Regions from separate parts of the Homo sapiens genome. Here region 2 is linked to region 1. Evidence: fine-mapped expression QTL. A gene starts in region 1. The other region holds a variant in brackets. All regions are shown on one strand. Distances are between the middles of the regions. Region 1 holds the start of ZNF121 (zinc finger protein 121). Region 2 overlaps ZNF121 (zinc finger protein 121).

Region 1 (12,205 bases):
TCTATTACTCTTTCTTCTTTCCTCGCTCTGTTGCTGACCATCTAGTTATTAACATAACCAAGTCAATTTTGCCTCAAACTGTTGCATTTAATGCTTGCCTTGTTATACCCTGTGGGGATTTGTCAAGTCAAAGGCAGCTCACTACTTCAGAAAAGCACCTCTGTCCCTCCTGGCTCTCCTCAGACTGGGCATTAGTGAATTAGGACCATTTAATCTGGGAGATTTCCATAAAGATCCCAGTGGAAACCAGGAGTCTTGACCCCAACCCCCGATGTAGAGCTTTTATGCCGTAGTTGGTCCAACGTTCTGTGGACCACCAAAGAGCAAGGATGGACTGCCCTAACCAGTTTTTGGAATTTCCTAAAACCATACATTCATTTACTAAAGGGACAGCCCCCCCCAACTGTCAGCCAAACCAGTGCAACCCTATACAGGTTAGTATTTTGAGCCCCAAAGTTCTCCTTTTCTAAGCCAGTTCCTTTCTTTAAGCCGGTTTTATGGTATAGGGGCTGAGGTTTCAAGGACAGACCCTACTGGATTCTTTGAAATGCGTTTCTTTGATCTCCCGCTGCCTGCACCTGCCTCTTAGCCTTTTTCCAAAACCTCTCACAACGGAACCATTGTTCCTCCTCCATCTAAGGACAAGGCCATGATAGCGATGGTAGAAGTTAAAGACTTAAACTTTGGCAATTGAGACAGGATACCAAGATGTAAATACCTGGTTGGAATGGATCAAATATTCCATCCGCATGTTAAACAAAAGCAATTGTTATGCTAGTGCGCACAGCAGGCCAGAGGCCCAGATTGTCCCCTTTCCACTAGGGTGGTTCTCCAATAGACCGGGCATGGGCTGCATGGTAACTCTTTTCCAGGATTCTACAGCCTAGGGTAAAGAGTCATGCCGACTCTCTGTCTCTGCTATATCCTGAAGTTCAACAACATGCTGGTCAGCCCCCGAGGGCCATCCAGCTTCCATCTCCCAACATTAAGTTCACTTCGTGTCTCTCACAACAGAGAGGAAACTTAGTGTTCCTTGGAGACCTGAAGGGATGCAGTGAGCTTAAGAACTTTCAAGAGCTTACCAATCAGTCAGCCCTTGCTCATCCCTGAGCGGATGTGTGGTGGTATTGTGGTGGACCTTTACTGGACACTCTGCTGAATAACTGGAGTGGCACTTGTGCTTTAGTCCAATTGGCTATCCCTTTCACCCTGGCATTTCAGCAACCAGAGGGAGGAAAGATAAGACTTCGTAAAGCAAGACAAGCCCGTTATAGGTCTTTCAACTCTCACGGCTATTTAGATGCAATTGGAGTCCCACGGGGAATACCAGATCAATTTAAAGCCCAAAATCCAATAGCTGCAGGATTTAAGTCAATATTTTGGTAGGCGACAGTTAATAAAAATGTAGATTGGGTGGGCCGGGCGCGATGGCTCATGCCTGTAATCCCAGCACTTTGGGAGGCCGAGGCGGGCGGATCACAAGGTCAGGAGATTGAGACCATCCTGGGTAACGCGGTGAAACCCTGTCTCTACTAAAAATACAAAAAATTCACCGGGCATGGTGGCAGGTGCCTGTAGTCCCAACTACTCAGGAGGCTGAGGTAGGAGAATGGCATGAACCCAGGAGGCGGAGCTTGCAGTGAGCCAAGATCGCACCACTGCATTCCAGCCTGGGTGACAGAGTGAGACTCCATCTCAAAAAAAAAAAAATGTAGATTGGGTAAACTACATCTATTACAACCAACAGCGATTTATTAACTACACTAGAGATGCTGTTAAAGGAATAGCTGAGCAATTGGGGGCTACTAACCTGATGGCTTGGGAAAATAGGATAGCTTTAGACATGGTATTAGCAGAAAGAGGAGGAGTTTGCATCATTATTAAAACTCATTGTTGCAACTTCATCCCAAACAACACGGCCCCTAATGGAAGTATAAGAAAGGCATTGCAAGGCCTGACTCCTCTATCCAATGAGTTGGCCAGCAATTCAGGGGTAAATTACCCATTTACAGAATGGCTAGAAAAGTGGTTCGGTAAATGGAAAGGAATAATAGCCTCAATTCTCACCTCCCTTGTAGCCGTAATGGGTGTACTTATCCTTGTCAGGTGCCGTGTCATACCATGCATCTGTAGGTTGGTGCAGAGGCTCATAGAAATGGCACTTACTAAAACCTCCTTTAACTATCCTCCACCTTATCCAGAGAAGCTCCTTCTTTTGGAAAATCAAGCAGAACAACTAAGTCAAGACATGTTAAATAAGTTTGAAGAGAAAGCCATAAAAAAAATGCAAGAGGAGGAAGTTGTTGAAAATGAATTATAAATTTCTCTTCAAAGAATTAATATGTCAGTATGCTCAATTCTTTGCCTTCTACTTTTAAACTTAACTTCCTCATAAAGCACCCTTTTCCCAAACCGCTCACTCCATCACTCTCTTTAAATTAGTCAATCGGAATTAGTTTAGCCTGTGAGGTCCAACCCTAGCCAGTAGGGGAACGACAGAGCAGTAGGGACCACGTGTGTCAGGAATAAGAACCCCTTTCCCTCCCTTGTCCAGGTGTGTGCCCACCATTGCTCCATCTGTGAGAGTGCACCCTTCTATAGAAGTATCTTGCCTTGCTGAGAATTAAAAAGAAAATTTTATATTCAAGTGTTATTTCTTTTGTGGCACCAAAACTTTATATGTGACAGACTGGAAGTTCAAGAGCAGCCTGGGCAACATAGAGAGATCTCTTCTCTACCCAAAATATTTTTAAAAATTAGCTGGATGTGGTGGTGTACATATGTATTCCCTGGTACTTGGGCAGGAGGATTACTTGAGCTCACAAAGTAAAGGCTGCACTGAGCAATGATAACGCTACTACACTCCAGCCTGTGTGACAGAGTGAAACCCTGTCAAAAAGAAAAAAAAAAAGTAGAATGTGATTTTAAACATCAGAACTAAACAGAATGATATGCTCAGAGAGGTTTCCCTATCCCTATCCTCTCCATTTTGTTCTTATCCCACCATTCTGTTCAAGCCCTTCCCATCTATCCCCGATAGATTCTGAATCTTATTATTTTCAGGATAGTCCTATCAGTGTTTCCCTGTACTCAGAATGAACAGATAATTACATATTTTATTTTTATTTTTTTGAGACTGAGTCTCACTCTATCGCCCAGGCTGGAGTGCAATGGCGCGATCTTGGCTCAATACAACCGCCGCTTCCCGGGTATAAGCAATTCTCCTGCCTCATCCTCCCGAGTAGCTGGGATTACAGGCGCCCGCCACCATGCCCGGCTAATTTTTGTATTTTTAGTAGAGGCGGAGTTTCACCATGTTGGCCAGACTTGTCCTTCAGAACTTTTTAACTGGAAGATATGCTGCCAGGCTGCTGAGCATCGTCACTTAGTCATATAAGCCCCCTCTTTGATTCCCCTTCTCCTCTGGGAGTCTTTCTTCCTTTCCACCCTTTCTGAGCAGCGACCCACAGGTAGAAGCCTGTGGATATTCTCTTGCTGTTTGCTACCTCCCGCCACTCCTTACCTGTCAAAGCACATCCCAAATGAAGCTTGTGTGCTACTGCCGCCTTGTGGTCACGTCTTTTTCCTTACTCAGCCAAGAAATCACTTACACCCTGAATGCGTATATGGTTTTATTTTTCACATTTAGATCCCTAGTCCATTTAGAGTTTATTCTTGTATATGCTGTGAAGTATGGATTTAATTTCATCTTTTCTCTGATGGCTACCCAGCTGTCTTAGACTTTCCATTACAAATGGCTTTTTTTGCCTCATTGATCTGAAATACCTTTTTTTTTTTTTTTTGAGATGGATTTTCACTCTTGTTGCCCAGGCTGGAGTCCAGTGGCGCGATCTCGGCTCACTGCAACCTCTGCCTTCTGGGTTTCAGCGATTCTCCTGCCTCAGCCTCCCGAATAGCTGGGATTACAGAAAGCCCACCACCATGCTTGGCTAATTTTATTTTTGTATTTTTATTAGAGACAGGGTTTCACCATGTTGGACAGGCTGGTTTCGAACTCCTGACTTCAGGTGATCCTCCCGCCTCAGCCTCCCAAATTGCTAGGATTACAGGTATGAGCCACCGCGCCTGGCAAAATACCACATTTATGAACCAAATTCCTACATGTTCTTGGGTCTGTTTTTAGATATTTTATTAGTCTGTTTCTGCTTCATGTGCTAGTACCACATAGTTTTAATTATAGAGGCTTTATAGTATGTCTTATTTATTTTTATTTTAATATAATTTAATTATTTGCCTTGTGTGAAAACTGTTAATAGTATGTTTTAACATCTGCTGCTCATCATTGCTTTTGTTTTTGTTTTCTTGGTTATTATCAGATATTTATTCTTCCACATAAACTTTAGTATCAACGTACCTAACTCCAGAAAAAACTTTTAATATTTTTACTGGGATTATGTTACATTTCTGAATAAACCTGGGGAGAATGTCTGGTGTCAGTGCTATTTTACAATGTAGGAAATGTGGTCCTGGCCCATGTGGGAAGATCAGAAAAATAACAATAGAAATACATGTTTTTGGCCAGGCGTGGTGGCTCACATCTGTAATCCCAGCACTTTGGAAAGGTGAGGCAGGCGGATCATGAGGTCAGGAGTTCGAGACCAACTGGGCCAATATGGTGAAACCCTGTCTTTACTAAAAATACAAAAATTAGCCGGGCATGGCGGCGCCTGCCTGTAATCTCTGCTACTCAGGAGGCTGAGAGAGAAGAATCGCTTGAACCCGGGAGGCAGAGGTTGCAGTGAGCAAGATCGTGCCACTGCACTCCAGCCTGGGCAACAGAGCTAGACTCCATCTCAAAACAAAAACAAAAACATATTTAAAATTTTTTTTAAACAGAGACGGGGTCTTGCTGTATTGCCCAGGCTGGTCTCAAACTCCTGGCCTCAAACGATCCCTTGGCCTCCCAAATTGCTGGGATTATAGGCATAAGCCACCATACCCAGCCAGAAATACATACTTGATGAAGACAAAAAAAAATCAAGATTTACAGAAAATATTATTATATTGAAAACGTGGCCGGGTGCGGTGGCTCATGTCTATAATTCCAGCACTTTGGGAAGCTGAGGGAGACAGATCATTGGAGGTCAGGAGTTCGAGATCAGTCTGGCCATCATGGTGAAACTCTTCTCTACTAAAAGTACAAAAATTAGCTGGGCGTGGAGGCAGACATCTGTAATCCCAGCTACTCGGGAGGTTGAGGCAGGAGAATCACTTGAACCCGGGGGGCAGAGGTTACAGTGAGCCGAGGTCATGCCACTGCACTCCAGCCTGGGCAACAGAGTGAGATCTGTCTCAAAAAAAAATAAAAAATGAAAAAGAAAAACGAAAAAAGAAAACGCAATGGAACCAGCAGGTTCTAAAAAATAAAGAATGAAGAAATAAAGGCCTACAGAAAGCCTGACTGAATAGAAGAGATAGACCATGCCATTCACTGGCAGCTTTATCCATATGGAAGAATCATGGAAAGGCTCTAGGAACATGAGATGTATACAAACAAGCTTTATATATATGTATACACACATATATATTTTAATAAAGGATGTTGCTATTTTGCCCACGCTGGTCTTGAACTCTTGGACTCAAGCTATCCACCTGCCTTAGCCTCCCAAAGTGTTGGACTTACAGGCCTTAGCCACTGTGCCCACCTGGGAAAAGCTCTGCAGGAGCATCCCCTGGGGTGCGTCCCATCCCCCACGCCCGCCCTTCCAGCAGGTCCGGCCACCTGAACCGCCGGCTAGCCGGGTCCCACCTCTAAACCGCCCCCAAGTAAGGGCCTGTCCGCGCCCACCCGGGAAGAAACTACAATTTCTGTGTTTGACTGGGTCCTATGTGGCTGAAACTCGAACCCAGGAGCCCCGCCCGGCCCGAGGCTCGGAGCGGAAGTGACGTCAGCGCACAATCGCCATCTTTTCCGGCGCTGGCTCCGCATGGTCAGTGCCATTTCGCCTTTATCGTGGTGGAGTCCACCCTGGCTGTGGTGAGTTCCGCCTGCTTGGGGATCCCGGAGATAGCGGGGGGCGGCAAAGGAACGATTGGGTGCTGTCGCCCAGGAGCCTCTCCGATCCGCCTCGTTTCACTCTCTTCTCCAGGGGCTGTCGGTCCTCCTTGCGCGGCCAGTGGCTAGAGGCCGCAGGCTCAGTGGGTCCCAGTCAGGAGCCAGGTCGGGAAGTGTGTTTGTCCCGACTCCGCGCGTTTTCTGGAGTGGTTTCATCCGCTGTGCTCCCTTCTTCAAAAGCTTGGAAAGCAACCTTTGTGAGTTTCTTTCTTTCTGAAAGTAAAAGGATTTCTGCCGTTCCAGTCAGGTTGGCTCCGGCCCCGCATTTCCGCGCCTCAGGAACCTGGCGTTTCCGGCATGTTCCTGGTGAACACCTGCAGAAAATTGGTTTCAAGAGGGCTCTGACTTCCATTTCTTTGCTTAAAAATGTCTCGTCTGAGAATCTGGCATTGATGTCCTATTCTTATTTTTGACACATTACTTTCTGATGGAAAAAAAATAGTCGTTTAGGGTGTGCCTATATCTGCATGTAAATATGAACACGTGTAGACTGTGAGCCTTTAGTTTCTTATTTTATTTTCTTGGACTTAATGTTTTTTGTTGTTACCAGCTACAAGCCTTTCTACAAAAGAAAGGCAGGCTGGGCGCGCTGGCTCACGCCTGTAGTCCCAGCCATTTGGGAGGTCGAGGCGGGCAGATCACCTGAGGTCAGGAGTTCGAGACCAGCCTGGCCAACATGGTGAAACCCTGTCTCTACTAAAAATACAAAAAATTAGCCAGGCGCGATGGCGGGCGCCTGTAGTCCCAGCTACTCGGGAGGCTGAGGCAGGAGAATGGCGTGAACCCGGGAGGCGGAGCTTGCAGTGAGCCGAGATCGCGCCACTGCACTCCAGCCTGGGCAAAAGAGGGAGACTCCGTCTCACACACACAAAAAAAAAAAAAAAAAAAAAAAAGCCAGGCTTGGTGGCAGTCCCCTGTAATCCTAGCTACTTGGGAGGCTGAGGCAGGAGGATTGCTTGAACCTGAGAGGCCGAGGTTGCAGTGAGCCGAGATCTGCCACTGCACTCCAGCCTGGGCGATGAGAGCGAAACTCCGTCTCAAAAAAGAAAGAAAGGCAATAATACACAGCTGTTGTCTTTATCTGAAGTTCCTAGGTCTGTACCCCCCCACAGAGCTTCAAAACGGGCCCACAGGAAGAAAGGATGGAGGCTTTTGTTTGTTTTTTTCAGACGGAGTCTTGCTCTGTCGCCCAGGCTGGAGTGCAGTGGCGCGATCTCAGCTCACTGCAACCTCCACCTCCTGGGTTCAAGTGATTCTCCTGCCTCAGCCTCCGAGTAGCAGGGACAACAGGCATGGGGACCATGCCCAGCTAATTTTTTTTTTTTGTATTTTTAGTGGAGACAGGGTTTCACCATGCTCGCCAGGCTGGTCTCGAACTCCTGACCTTGTAATCCGCCTGACGGCCTCCCAAAGAGCTGGGATTACAGGCGTGAGCCTCCGCTCCTGGCCAGGATGGAGGCTTTATAATCAGAATATTATTCTAGTATTAGTGTAATAAAGTAGTATCTATTGAATTTATTAACAGCATGTTTAGACTAAGTGTAGTTTTGACATTTTTTTCTGAAAAATTTGATCCTAGGGAAAACTTGAACATCTAACACACCCAGTCTAGTAGTTTTTTTTTTTTTTTTTTTGAGACAGAGTCTCGCTCTGCTACCCGGGTCGGGGTGCAGAGGTGCGATCTCGGCTCACTGCAACCTCTGCCTCCCAGGTTCAAGTAATTCTCCTGCCTCCCTAGCATTAGGTGCGTCCATGTGAAGAGACCACCAAACAGGCTTTGTATGAGCAATAAAGCTTTTAATCACCTGGGTGCAGGCAGACTGAGTTCAGAAAAGGAGTCAGCAAAGGGAGATAGGGGTCGGGCAGTTTTATAGGATTTGGGTAGATAGTGGAAAATTACAGTTAAAGGAGGTTGTTCTCTTGCGGGCAGGGGCGGGGATCACAAGGTGCTCAGTGGGGAGCTCCTGAGATTCATTGTCCAGGAGAAGGAATGTCACAAGGTCAATTGATCAGTTAGGTTGGGGCAGGAACAAATCACAATGGTGGAATGTCATCAGTTAAGGCAGGAACTAGCTATTTTCGCTTCTTCTTGTTGTTCTTCAGTTGCTTCAGGCCATCTGGATGTATACGTGCAGGTCACAGGGAGTCTGATGGCTTGGCTTCGGCTCAGAGGCCTGACACCTAGTAGCTGGGACACAGGCACATGCCGCCATGCCCAGCTAATTTTTTTTTGTATTTTAGTAGAGACAAGGTTTCACCATGTTGGCCAGGCTGGTCTCGAAATCCTGAGCTCAGGCAGTTCACCTGCTTCGGCCTCCCAAAATGCTGGGATTACAGGTGTGAGCCACTGTGCCTGAACACTTACTTTTTGAGCATTGTGCTTGTTTTCTTTCACCTCAGGTAAATACATTTTATGGTGAACAATTTGAGTGTAAATTGAGCATAATTGCACACGTGATACTTGACCTTTAAATACTTGGTAATGCATCGCCTAAAAAAATAGCACTGTCATTCTGAAACCACAATACTAGTATTTCACTTAAATAAAAAATAATAATGTCATCTAATGTCTGCTTTTTATAATAACTAAAATTCTCCGCATTGATTCAACGTATGCTCTTGGATGTTTTTGGGTTTAAGATCCATTCAAGATTTTTACATTGCAATTGTTAATGTTTTCAGTGTCTTTTTACCTAGAACAGTTATTATTGTATATTATATTGACTTTTGGAGAGTCACACTGTGGGATATGAGGATATGATGAGGTTTCTCTTCAAATAATCTCATCAATCTTTTATTCTCTAATTCATAGTACCCCCCCTTTTTCTCCTTTTTTCTCCTTTTTGCCTTTGTTAGATGCCCAGGCATGCCACAGTACAAAGCGTTATCAGTACCAGCTCACATACCTTTCCTTACTTAGAAAGAGGACTTTCTAGCTCACTACAGACATCCCTTCCCCTTCCTCTCCACTTTTCTTCTACGTGCCCACCCTATCTAAAAAAAATCAGGTGTTTCACCAACCGGGATTAGTTTAGATTGTACGACCTGACCCCGGCCAATAGGGAAAGGGTACAGGGGCAGGACTTGCATCAGGAGTAAAGGCTCTCATGCCCCTTTGTTCAGGTGTGCTCTCATGGCAACTGGTCAAGGAGGCACCCCTCTGCACAGAAGTAAAATTGCTTTGCTAAGAATCCTTTGTTCGAGTGTTCAATTTCCTTAGGATTTTGAGCGTTATTCCTAACACTCATTCTCTTAGAAAGTCATACAATCAGATATTTCTGATTGGATTCTCATGGTGTGTGTAAATATTCCTTTATTTCATGCGATTTCCTACAAACTCGGGGTTTTTGGCCTAAAGGAGAAGCTGACAACCTTTGTTTGATAAGGGCTGACAGTATGTACTTCGTGCTTTGGGGACCAGAAAGTCTCAAATTACTCAGATCTGCCTTAGTTACTTCATGTCCCATGATTAGTTGTTCATTCTCTATCGCATGGTAGTGGCAAACCACAACCTGTTTCTCAAAAGAGAAACAGTTAATCTGCACAAGAGGGCATGGATTGACTATGGAATACCAGAGGCCTCTACTCTACATCTTCTGTTGGTGTATGCCAGAGGCTTCCAATAAATAGGATGCCATTTAACATGGACACGTTGAGTATCATTGGGTCTGCTGGATCAGGTGGACCAAGTGCTTGGGAAGCCTGCAGTGCAGCCTGAAATTGCTCTTGTCTACAGTTGAAACTAGAATCCTTACAGGCAACTGTGTGGGGCGTTAAAGCACATACAAATGTATATGTTGCCTCCAAAATTCAAGAGGTTTACGGGTGGTAGCTCTATTGACAGTTCTATTTTTAGTTTTTTGAGAAACCCCCATACTGAGTTTTTTTTTTTTTCTTTTTTGAGTCTTGCTGGATCACCCAGGCTGGAGGGCAATGGCATAATCATGGCTCATTGCTCGTTTTTAGTGGTAGGTGGTATTAGGTGAAGTAACTTGGAGGGACATCTTGCAGGGAATGTCTTTTTGTAGGGAATGTCTTTACATGATCCAGACAAGGGAATATCTATCTTTTTTTTTTTCTTTTTTTCTTTTTGAGACTAGTTTTTCTCTGTCACCCAGGCTGGAGTGCAGTGGCACAAACTGGGCTTACTGCAAACTCTGCCTCCCGAGTTCACGCCATTCTCCTGCCTCAGCCTCCTGAGTAGCTGGGACTACAGGTGCCCGCCAACACGCCCGGCTAATTTTTTGTATTTTTAGTATTGACGAGGTTTCACCGTGTTAGCCAGGATGGTCTCAATCTCCTGACGTCGTGATCCGCCCGTCTCAGCCTCCCAAAGTGCTGGGATAACAGGTGTGAGCCACCCGCGCCTGGCTGACAAGGGAATATCTTTACCCACAGACATGGTGGCCCCAGAATCTCCCACCCTCTATTTGAAAATTCAAAAAAAGTTTTTTGATTCATAATAGACGTACATGTTTTCTGAGTACATGTGATAATTTGATGCATTTATATTATCAAATCAGGGTAAGTAGAATATCTGTCACCTTAAATATTTATCCTTTCTTTATTGCAGGAAAATCAAGTTATTCTCTTAGCTGTTTTGAAATGTACAATAGATGAGTGTTAAATGTAGTCACCCTACTGATCTATTGAACACTAGTTCTTATTTCTTCTAACTGTGTATTTTACCCATGAATCAACCTCTCTTTTTTTTCTAGAGACGGAGTCTCACTGTTGCCCAGGCTGGAATGCAGTGGCATGATCTCGGCTCACTGTAACCTCCACCTCCTGGGTTCAAGTGATTCTCCTGCCTGGGACTACAGGCGCACGCCACAATTCCCAGCTAATTTTTGTATTTTCAGTAGAGATGGAGTTTCGCCATGTTGGCCAGGCTGGTCTCGAACTCCTGACCTCAAGTGATTCACCTGCCTTGGGCTCCTAAAGAGCTGGGATTACAGGCATGAGCCACTGTGACTGACAGGTTTTATGTGTGCATATGTGTGCAGACAGGTCTTCCTGTGTTGTCCAGGCTGGCTCGAACTTCTGGGCTCAAGTGATCCTCCCACCACAGCCTCAAGTTTTGGGATTACAGGCATGAGCCACTACACCTGAGTATTGTTCTCTATAGTGGCTGTACTAATTTACATTCCCATCAACTGCATACAAGGATTATCTTTTCACCACATCCTCATCAGTATTTGTTATTCCCTGTCTATAAAAGCCACCCTATGAGGTGAGATGACATCTCATTGTGGTAATGTGTGATTTGTATTTCTTTGATGTTTAGCCATGTTGAGCATTTTTTCCGTATACCTGTTGGCCATTTGTATGTCGTTTTTTGAGAAACAAGTATTCTGACCTTTGGCCAATTTTTTGATCGGATTTTTTTTTTTTTTTTTTTTGCTATCAAGTTGAGTTCCTTATATATTTTGATTACTAATCTTTGTCAGGTGGATAGTTTGTAAATATTTTTTTCCCATACTCTAGATTGTCTCTTCAGTTTGTTGATTGTTTTGCTGTGGAGAAGTTTTTAGTTTGATGTAATCTCATATGTTTATTTTTGCTCCTGTTGCCTGTGCTGTTGAGGTCTTACCCAAGAAATCTTTACCCAGACCAATGTCCTGGATTGTTTCCCCAGTTTCTTCCTCTAGTAGCTTTATAGTTTCAGGTGTTAGATGTCTTTAATCTGTTTTGATTTTGTTTATGCTGAGAGATGGCATCTAGTTCATTCTGCATATCGTTATTCAGTTTTCCCAGCAGCACTTATTGAAGACTGCTATTTTCCCATTGTATGCTTTTGGTGCCTTTGTTGAAAATGAACTGTCTATAAATGTGTAGATTTATATTTAGGTTCTCTGTTCTCTTCCATAGATCTATGTGTTTGTTTTTATGTCAGTACCATGCTGATTTGGCTATGGTAGCTTTGTAGAATATTTTGATATCAGGCAGTTTGATGCTTCCAGCTTTTTCTTTCCTTCTTTTTTTTTTTGAGACTAAGTCTCGCTCTGTCTCCCAGGCTGGAGTGCAGTGGTGCGACCTCGGCTCACTGCAACCTCTGTCTCCCAGGTTCAAGGAATTCTCCTGCCTCAGCCTCCCTAGTAGCTGGGACTACAGGCACGCACCACCATG
Region 2 (10,103 bases), 25 kb after region 1:
ACTTCGCCACTGCTTGATCAACTAAGTTGATGTAATATTCTAAGTCTGTTGTCTTTTCAACAATGTTCACAGCATCTTCAGGAGTAGATTTCATTTCAGGAAACCACTTTCTTTGCTTATCTATACAAAGCAGCCTCTCATCTGTTCAAGTTTTTTCACGAGATTGAAACAATTCTGTCACATCTTCAGGCTCCACTTCTAATTCTAGTTCTCTTTTTTCCATCACATCCACAGTTACTTTTTCCACTGAAGACTTGAACCCCTCAGAGTCACCTATGAAGGTTGGAATCAACTTCTTCCAAACTCTGGTTAATGTTGGTTTTTATTTTTTTAATTAAAAAAATTTTTTTTAGAGACAAGGTCTCGCTGTGTTGTTCATGCTGGAGTACAAGTGGGTATTCACCAGCACGATGAGAGCACACTGTAGCCTTGAACTCCTGGCCTCAAGTGATCCTCCTTCCTATGCCTCCTGAGTAGCCAAGACTCCAGGCACACACCACCACACCTGCCTTAATGTTGATATTTTGACCTCCTTCCATGAATCATAAATGTTGTTAATGGCATCTAGAATGGAGAATCCTTTCTGCAAGGTCTGCAACTTAATTTATCCAGATCCCTCAGAAGAAGCATTATTAGTGGCAGCTATAGCCTTATGAAATGTATTTCTTAAATAATAAGACTTGAAAGTCAGAATTATTCCAGAATCCATGGGCTGCGGTTAGCAGACATGAAAACGCCAATCTTGTTTATACCTCCATAAGAGCTCTTGGTTAGTAGGTTCATTATCAGTGGTAATATTTTGAAAGGAATCTCTGAACAGTATGTTTTACAGTGGGCTTAAAATATTCAGTAAACCATGCTGTAAATAGATGTAAATAGATACCACAGGAAGAGTAGATGTAGCATAATTCTTAACTGGCTCTTGGATTTTTGGAATGGTAATTGAATATTAGCATTCATTTAAAGTCACCAACTGCATTGACCTCTAACAAGAAAGCCAGCCCAGGCTGGGAAAAGTGGCTTACACCTGTAATTCCAGTGCTTTGGGAGGCTGAGGTTGGAGGATCACTTGAGGTCAAGAGTTCAAGACCAGCCAGCACAACAGAGCGTGACGCTGTCTCTACAAAGTAAAGAGTCAGCCCGTCCTTTGAATCTTTGAAGTCAGATATTAGCTTACCTAGAGCTGTGAAAGTCCTAAATGGCATCTCCTGAAGTAAGGCTGTTTTGTCTCTGTTAAAACTCTAGTAGAGCTACCTCTGCCATTTATCTAGATATTCTGGAAATGCTTGCTGCAGATTCCACATCAGCAATTGCTACTTCACTTTGTACTTTTATGTTATGGAAATGACTTGTTAAACCTCACGAACTGATCTTTGCCAGCTTCCAGCATTTCTTCTGCAGCTAACTCACCTCTCAGCCTTCATAGAATTAGAGTTAGGGCCTTGCTCTGGATTAGGTTTTGGCTTAAGGGAATGTTGTGGCTGGTCTGATCTTCTATCCAGACCACTAAAACTTATTCCGTGTTAGTGGTGAGGCTGTTTTCCTTTCTTATTATGTGTGTGTTCACTGGAGTAGCACTTTTAGTTTCCTTCAAGAACTTTACATTCACAACTTGGCTAACTGGCACAAGAGGCCTAGATTTTGGCCTATCCCAGTTTTTTTTTTTTTTTTTTTTTTGAGACATGGTCTCCCTTTTGCCCAGGCTGGAGTGTAGTACAGTTATAGCCCATTGCAGCCTCAAACTTACGGGTTCCAGTGATCTTCCTGTCTCCTGAGTAGCTAAAGACTGCAGGTGTGCACCACCATGGCCAGCTAATTTTTTTTTTTTTTTTTTTTTTTTTTTAAAGAGGCAGGACTTTACTGTTTACCCGGCTGATCTTGAACTTAAAACCTCAAGTGATGCTCCCCTATCTGCCTCCCAACACTCTGGGATTACAGGTGTGAGCCACTGCACCTGGCTCTTATCTTGGCTTTTGACATGACTTTCTCACTGAGGTTAATCATTTCCAGCTTTTGATCTAAAGTGAGAAATTTGCAACTCCTTCTTTCACTTGAACAGTTAGAGGCCATTGTGGGGTAATGAATTGGCCTAATTTCAATATTGTCCCTCAGGGAATTAGGAGGCCTGGGAAGAGGAGGAGAGAGGGGAGAGTGGCCAGTTGGTGGAGCAGTGAGAACATAGCATTTGTTAAGTTTGCTGTCTTCGAAGGTTGTGGTTTGTGGTACCCCAAAACAATTAAAATAGGAACATCAAAGATCACAGAGCAGCCGGGCACGGTGGCTCACACCTGTAATCCCAGCACCTTGAGAGGCTGAGGTGAGTGAATCATGAGGTCAGGAGTTCGAGACCAGCCTGGCCACCATGGTGAAACCCCGTCTCTACTAAAAATACAAAAAATTAGCCGGGCATGGTGGCAGGCACCTATAGTCCCAGCTATTCAGGAGGCTGAGGCAGGAGAATCACTTGAATCCAGGAGGTGGAGGTTAGAGTGAGCTGAGATCACACCACTGCACTCCAGCCCAGGTGACAGAGTGAGATTCCTTCTCAAAAAAAAAAAAAAAAAAAAATCACACAGCACCACAGTAAGTATAATAATAAGGAAAATGTTTGAAATATTGTCAGAATTGTCAGGATGTGAGAGACAAAGTAAGCACATGCTGTTGGAAAAAATGGTGTTATAGATTTATTCGACATGACATTGCCACAGGACTTCTACTTGTGAAAAATATCTGTAAAGTGAGATGAAGCAAAGTGAAGTAACATGAGGTATGTCTGTAGCTGTTGCTGTAGTGGTTTCCAAATGGTGGTTTTCTTTTCCTTTTTTTTTTTTTTCTTTTTGGTCTGCATTGGGGTCTTGCTCTGTTGCCTAGGGTGTGGAGTGCGGTGGCATGATCATGCCTCACTATAGCCTTGACCTCCTGGGCTCAAGCGATCCTCCCACCTGAGTCTCCTGAGTACCTGGGACCACAGGCACATGCTAACGCACCCACTTAATTTTTTTATTCGTAGAGCCGAGGTCTCACTATGTTGCCCAGACTGGTCTCAAGCTCTTGGGCTCAAGCAGTCCTCCTGCCTCAGCCTCCCAAAGTGCCAGGATTACAGGTGTGAGCCACCACACCCAGTCCAAAAAGTGATTTTCTAATTCCATAGTTTCTTCTACATTTCTTAACTGGAATTTTGTAAGGAAGAGTTATCCTTATTCATTTATTTACCCATTTACTTGTAGGAGCATGTATCATAAATTCTTAATCTATGGGGTGTAGTTAGCTACTGTAAATTTGATGCACATATTTTTCCAGATTCAATAAGTAGGATCCCCATCAAGCTATCTTCTGAATCTTTAAAAATGTATTCTCCTTATTTCATGGGTATATAATTATTTTCTGGGCAACAGTTTGTTCATGGTACATTTGTCTCCAGCCCTAGACTCAGAAAAATGTAATTTATTTTAATGGAGAATACTATTTAGAAGCTGCAGTCTCTGTGTAGGGAGGTGTTCCTAGGTAATAGTGCCCTGGCTTTTAGGTCTTCTCTATGGAGGATATGGCAAAGACATACAAAATTATATATACGTATCCACACATTAATAACTCTATTTCTATATTAAAAACATGACCACAAGCCAACACTTTTAATTCCACTGCAGCACTGCTGGGTTATTTCTTGCTTTCCAAATTCCCTTGTCTGTAGCTATCTTTCATCACTTGCAAAAATAGCACGTGCTCAATCCTAGATTAAAATATAAGCTACTCTCAGAATTGATAACTCATACCACTCTTTTTAAAAATCAACTAACCAGAATTCAGTTTTTATTCACAGTTCTTATCTTTAGCTCAGGGCGTAATATAAAAGCACTAGGTTTAAAACTTACTTGGTCAGCAGCAATCCACTTCTAGGTACATGTCCAAAGGAACTGAAGAAAGCATCTCAATGTGTGAATGCCTACCTGTGTTCATTGCAGCATTATTCAGAAGAGCCAAGAGGTGGAAGCAAAGTAAATGTCCATTGACAGATGAATTGGTAAACAAAATGCATTATATACATACAATGCAATATCATTTAGCCTTAAAAACAAAATTCTGCCATATGCTACAACATGGACGTTATGCTAAGTGAAATAAACCAGTTCCGAAAGGACAAATACACCCATTTCCACTTATATGGGGTATCTAACGTCAAACTCAGAAGAACAAAGTACTGCGGTATTTGCCACAAGCTGGTGGAGGAGAAAATGAGTTGTTCAATGGGTATTGAGTGTCAGCCACGCAAGATGGAAAAGCTTTTTGAGATTTGTTGTATAAAAATATGCCTATAGTTAACAATACTCTTCGGTACACACAAAGTATGTGAAAGGGTAAATTTTATGTGTTTTTATCACAATAAAAATTGTAATAAAAGAAGTTACTTGGGTCAATTTTGTGCTTTTTACCCCCCTCTTCATTGTTGAATTTTTATCCATTTGATACAAAGTTCATTTCAGTAATTCCTGTTAATTTTCCATTTTGTGTCACACCGTTATCCTTGTCGATTTTTTTTTAAATTAGATATGTAAAACAGGCCAGGCATGGTGGCTTATGCCTGTAATCCCAGTACTTTGGGAAGCCGAGGTGGGCGGATCACCTGAGACTGGGAGTTGGAGACCAGCCTGGCCAACATGGTGAAACCCTGTCTCTACCGTAAATACAAAAATTAGCCAGGCGGCTGGGTGCCGTGGCTCATGCCTGTTATCCCAGCACTTTGGGAGGCCGAGGCAGGCAGATCACAAGGTCAGGAGTTCAAGACCAGCCTGGCCAATATGGTGAAACCCCATCTCTACTAAAAATACAAAAATTAGCTGGGTATGGTGGCAGGCGCCTATAGTCCCAGCTACTCAGGAGGATGAGGCAGGAGAATCACTTGAACCCGGGAGGCGGAGGTTGCAGTGAGCCGAGATCGTGCCACTGCACTCCAGCATGGGTGACAGAGTGAGACTCTGTCTCAAAAAAAATAAATAAAAGGCTGGGTGTGGTGGCTCATGCCTAAGTGGGCAGATCATGAGGTCAGGAGTTCAAGATCAGCCTGGCCAACATAGGGAAACCCCGTGTCCACTAAAAATAGAAAAATTAGCCGGCCGTGGTGGTGGGTGCCTGTAGTTCCAGTTACTGGGGAGGCTGATGCAGGAGAATTGCTTGAACCCCAGAGGCAGAGGTTGCAGTGAGTCAAGATTGCACCACTGCACTCCAGCCTAAGTGACAGAGCGTGACTGTCTCAAAGAAAAAAATTAGGCGTCATGACACCCACCTGTAATACCAGCTACTTGGGAGGCTGAGGCAGAAGAATCGCTTGAACCTTGGGGGTGGAGGTTGCAGTGAGCTGAGATTGTGCCACTGTACTCCAGCCTGTTAGAGAGTGAGACTGTCCCAAAAAAATTAATATGTGAAACAATAGTATGTTTTATTTTATACTGGTTTATCTTTTTTTTTTTTTTTGAGTCAGGATCTTGCTGTGTCACCTAGACTGGAGAGCAGTGGCATGATTGTACCTCACTGCAGCCTTATGCTCCTGAGCTCAAGCACTCCTCCCACTTTAGTGTCTCAAGAGGCTGGGAGTACAGGCATGCACCACCAGGTGCAGGCAGTTTTTAAATTTTTTACCCTTATTTTTTTTTGAGACAGGGTGTTGCTCTGTCACCCAGGTTGGAGTGCAGTGGTGCAGTCATAGCTCCCTGCAGCCTCACACTTCTGAGATCAAGCAGTCCTTCTCCCTCAGCCTCCTGAGTAGGTAGGACTACCAGCGTGCACCACCAGGACTGGCTAATTTTAAATTTTTGTAGAGACAGGATGTGGCAATGTTGCCCAGGCTGGCCTCAAACTCCTGGTCTTAAGGGATCCTCCCATCCTGGCCTCCTAAAGTGCTGGTGTAACAGGCATTAGCCACAACGCCCACCTAATTGCATA[C/T]TTTAAACATTAGAACTAAACATAAACGTTTTTCTTGCCTTATCCTTTCCAGTCTGTTCTAATCTCACTGTCCTTTACAACCTGTTCCTATCCCATCAGCTATAGGTAATGAACCTTTTTCTCTGAATAATCCTGTGTTTTCTTCTAGCAAAAATGAACATATATATATTTGTTATTGCCCATTTAAAAAAAGATTTCAGGCAGGTACGGTGGCTCACGCCTCTAATCCCAGCACTTTGGGAGGCTGAGGCGGGTAGATCACAAGGTCAGGAGATCGAGACCATCCTGGGTAACACGATGAAACCCCCTGTCTACTAAAACTACAAAAAATTTGCCAGGCGTGGTGGTGGGCGCCTGTAGTCCCAGCTACTCGGGAGGCTGAGGCAGGAGAATGGCATGAACCCGGGAGGCAGAGCTTGCAGTGAGCCGAGATGGCGCCACTGCACTCCAGCCTGGGCAACAGAGTGAGACTCCGTCTCCAAAAAAAAAAAGTTTCATACTATACTCTTGCAGTTTCTATTTTTGCCTAACAGTGTATCTTGATAACCACTCCATATAAATTCATAGATATATCTTCCTTTTTCACCTTCATTCTGTAGCTGCATAATACTCCTTTTGTGGATGTACCATGTAATATTCAGCTGCTCTACTACATGTCATCAATTAGAGAATTCAAATTTGCAATTACTAACAGGGATGCAGTTAGTATTCTTGAGCATGTGTATTTTTGTATATTTAGGCATTTACATTCAGGACAAATTCCTAGAATTAGGATTGCTGGATTAAATAGGTAGTATATTAGACATTGACAAATTCTCTGTGCTAGGCAGCCTCCAAATTGGCCTCCAGTTTCTGCTTCCTGGTATTTGAGGACTACCCTTGTGTAATCCTCTCATACTGTACTATGATTGATATGTGTAACCACCAGAATATGGCAGAAGTTCTGGTAAGCCAGTTCTGAAATTAGGTTATGAAAGCCCACACATAACTGGAGCCCCAGTATTAAAAACAATTTTAAAAAAGAGCAACTCATGCTTCCTGATGTCAAAAGTTACTATAAAACTACAGAAATCAGGCTGGGCATGGTGGCTCCTGCCTGTAATCCCAGCACTTTGGGAGGCCGAGGAGGGCAGATCAAAAAAAATGTGTTCATAAAAAAATGAACACAATTTTTTTTAAGTTCACATGACAATTCTTTTATAAATTAATTGGTTTTAAAGTTGTCGATAAAATTAGATATGTCTTCAAAATTGTCAGCATATATTTTTGTCTGGGTTTACTGGTCTGACAGTGTTGTGTCTGTCTCTATTAGATACTTTAAGTTCATGAAGCTAAACCCAATCTAAAACAATGATCTTTGTGCAATTCTTTTATAAGTGAGATTTACTTAATATTTTTGATTTAATAACAATAGCTATATCTTCTGAGTTATTGACAGAATAACCATGTATTTAGTGTAGGGTTTGAACTTTGGTAAACAATATTAACAGGATATAAAATTGGTTAATAAAAAATAATTTAAAACAATGACTAGCTGTGTCAAATCTTAATAAGTAATCTAGGTGTAATTAGAAATTAAAGGTAACTGTAAATGGAATAAATGTTTATAAATAAACTTTTCATGTAATTTAAAATCTTAAATAATATTAATTATCTGGGTCATATCCAAATAAGATATAAGGCAAACAAATTACTGAAAAAATATATATTCATTCTTGGCTTCTTAAAATTTCTTTCTTTTTTTTTTGAGACGGAGTTTCACTCATCACCCAGCTGGAGTGCAATGGTGTAATCTCAGCTAATTGCACCCTCTGCCTCCCAGGTTCAAGCAATTCTGCCTCAGCCTCCCGAGTAGCTGGGTTTACAGGTGCCCACAACCATGACAGGCTAATTTTTGTATTATTAGTAGAGATGGGGTTTCACCATGTTGGCCAGGCTGGTCTTGAATTGCTGACCTCAGGTGATTCACCTGCCTTCACCTCTCAAAGTGCTGGGATTACAGGCATGAGCCACCGTGCCCAGCTGGCTTCTTAAAATTTCTAAAAAGAGTAGATATATTTTGGTCTATTACTCCAAATACAAATTTAGGAAAAAGTAATTTTTGTGTGAGAATCTTATGTGGTAAATTTTTGTCCTAAGGTAAAATGATTGGTTGTACCAATATAAAAGGAGAAAACTGTAAGTCTAAGACTGAAGGTTTAAGAAAATGATTAAACGTCTAAACAATTTGAATAGGATTTATAAAAGATAAGCCTTACCGACAGTTTATTGTATGATTGTGTTGGCTAGGATTGAAAAGAAATTGTACATAGGATATTTTTTTCCTAAAAATTAAACAGTGGTGTTGGGTGCACTGATACAGGACCAGAATCTGGTCCTCTATATTGAAAACAAGAAGGTGTGTTTTTTTTTGACATATTTATCTGCACTTAATAAATTTGCAAGACGTTTTGTTTGTTCGTTCTAAAATCTGTTAGTAGCCATCTTCTAAACTCTAGTTTCTATTTCGGCCACATTTTTTCCTGAGATCGATTTAATTTCTGTAGTTTTCAGGTTTTAAATGCTGTCCTCATCATTTAAAACAGTAATTTTATTTATTGAGGTGGAATTTCATACAGTTAAAAAAATTTGTAGAGATGATGATGTGGTTTGGATATGTGTCCCCACCCAAATCTCATGTTCAGCTGTAATTCCCAATGTTACAGGTTGTTCCTGGTGGGAGGTGACTTGATCATGGCGGGGTGGATTTCTCATGAGTGATTTAGCACTACCTGCCTCGGTACTGTCCTCGTGATAGATAGTGAGTGAGTTCTTGTCACTCGATTTGGTCGTTTAAAGGTGAGTAGCACCTCCCCCTCTCTCCTGCTCCTGCTTCGGCCATGTGACATGCCTGGTCCTCTGCATTCTGCTATGATTGTAAGTTTCCTGAGGCCTCCCCAGAAGCCAAGCAGATGCCAGCAACATACATCCTGTCCAGCCTGCAGAACTGTGAGCCAATTAAACCTTTTTTCTTTATAAATTACCCACTGTTAGTTATTTCTTTATAACAATGCGAGAACAGACTAATAAAGATGGCATCTAGCTATGTTGCCCAGGCTGGTCTCAAACTCCTGGCCTTAAGTTACTCTCCTGCCTCATCCTTCCAAAGTGCTGAGATTACAGGAACGAGCCACCAAAACCAAAACCAGCCAATTTGTTGAGGTAGAGTTTTGTTTTTTCAGATTTCTCATTCATGTCTCAGAGGCTCAACTTTACTTGCATCTCAGTGTATGTCATTTGCAGGTCATACATCATTGCCTTCTTTTTTTCACATTGAGAAGGTCTGGGATGATGACTGTCTCCAACTTTTTTGTCTGCTCCTGTAAGTTTTTTCTTTGGTTCTAAATCGGCTATTATGGCCTGACACTGAAATATTTATCATGAAGGCCTAGAAAAGCAATGTATTTGCTCTGTATAACTTGATTCTGTACTCTCGGCTTTTCTTGATGTACCTAAATTTTTACACTCATAGCCTTGGACATATTCCTAACTAAATCCAAGCACACTTTTCATCACGTTCAACTTCCAGGTTATTTTTATTTTTATTTTATTTTTTGAGATGGATTCTTGCTCTGTCACCCAGGCTGGAGTTCAGTGGCGCAATCTCAGCTCTCTGCAACCTCTGTCTCCTGGGTTCAAGTGATTCTCTGCCTCAGCCTCCTTGGTAGCTGGGTCTACAGGTGTGTGCCACCACCCCTGGCTAATTTTTGTGTTTTTTAGTAGAGAAAGAGTTTCACCATGTTGGCCAGGCTGGTCTCGAACTCCTGACCCAAGTGATCCACCCGCCTCGGCTTCCCAAGTGCTGGGATTACAGGTGTGAGCCACCATGCCTGGCCAACTTCCAGGTTATCTAAATGCACTTTGCATAAGGAGAAATAATCACACTGTAGAAGGTTTTTCTTTACCTTTTTGGTAGCTGGTCTAAGAAAGGTTTTACAAGAAATTATCGAGATAATTTCCTGTATTGCCTTTATTAAGTTTTTTATCACTTAAAAAAAAAAACCTGGTTGGTTGGGCATGGTGTTTCATGCCTGAATCCCAGCACTTTGAGAGGCTGAGGTGGGAGGATCACTTGAGTTCAGGAGTTCGATACCAGCCTGGGCAACATGATGAAAGCCCATCTCTTA

What was found. PIP is the estimated chance that this variant, and not a neighbour inherited with it, causes the effect.
Region 2: its variant is fine-mapped to the expression of ZNF121 in whole blood (TOPMed, PIP 0.94).

What each region holds. Positions count from the first base shown.
Region 1 is chr19:9,578,254-9,590,458 of GRCh38, reverse strand. It overlaps ZNF121 (zinc finger protein 121), which reads left to right and starts at 5,955. Exons shown (of 4, transcript NM_001008727.5): 1 at 5,955-5,998. RefSeq lists enhancers at 378-1,024, 5,565-6,376, 7,191-8,003, 8,004-8,817.
Region 2 is chr19:9,554,627-9,564,729 of GRCh38, reverse strand. It overlaps ZNF121 (zinc finger protein 121), which reads left to right. Exons shown (of 4, transcript NM_001008727.5): 4 at 1-4,401. Among named protein-coding and RNA genes, the nearest start is that of ZNF426-DT, 21 kb to the right of the region's middle. The variant C/T (reference allele first, on the strand shown) is at 5,938.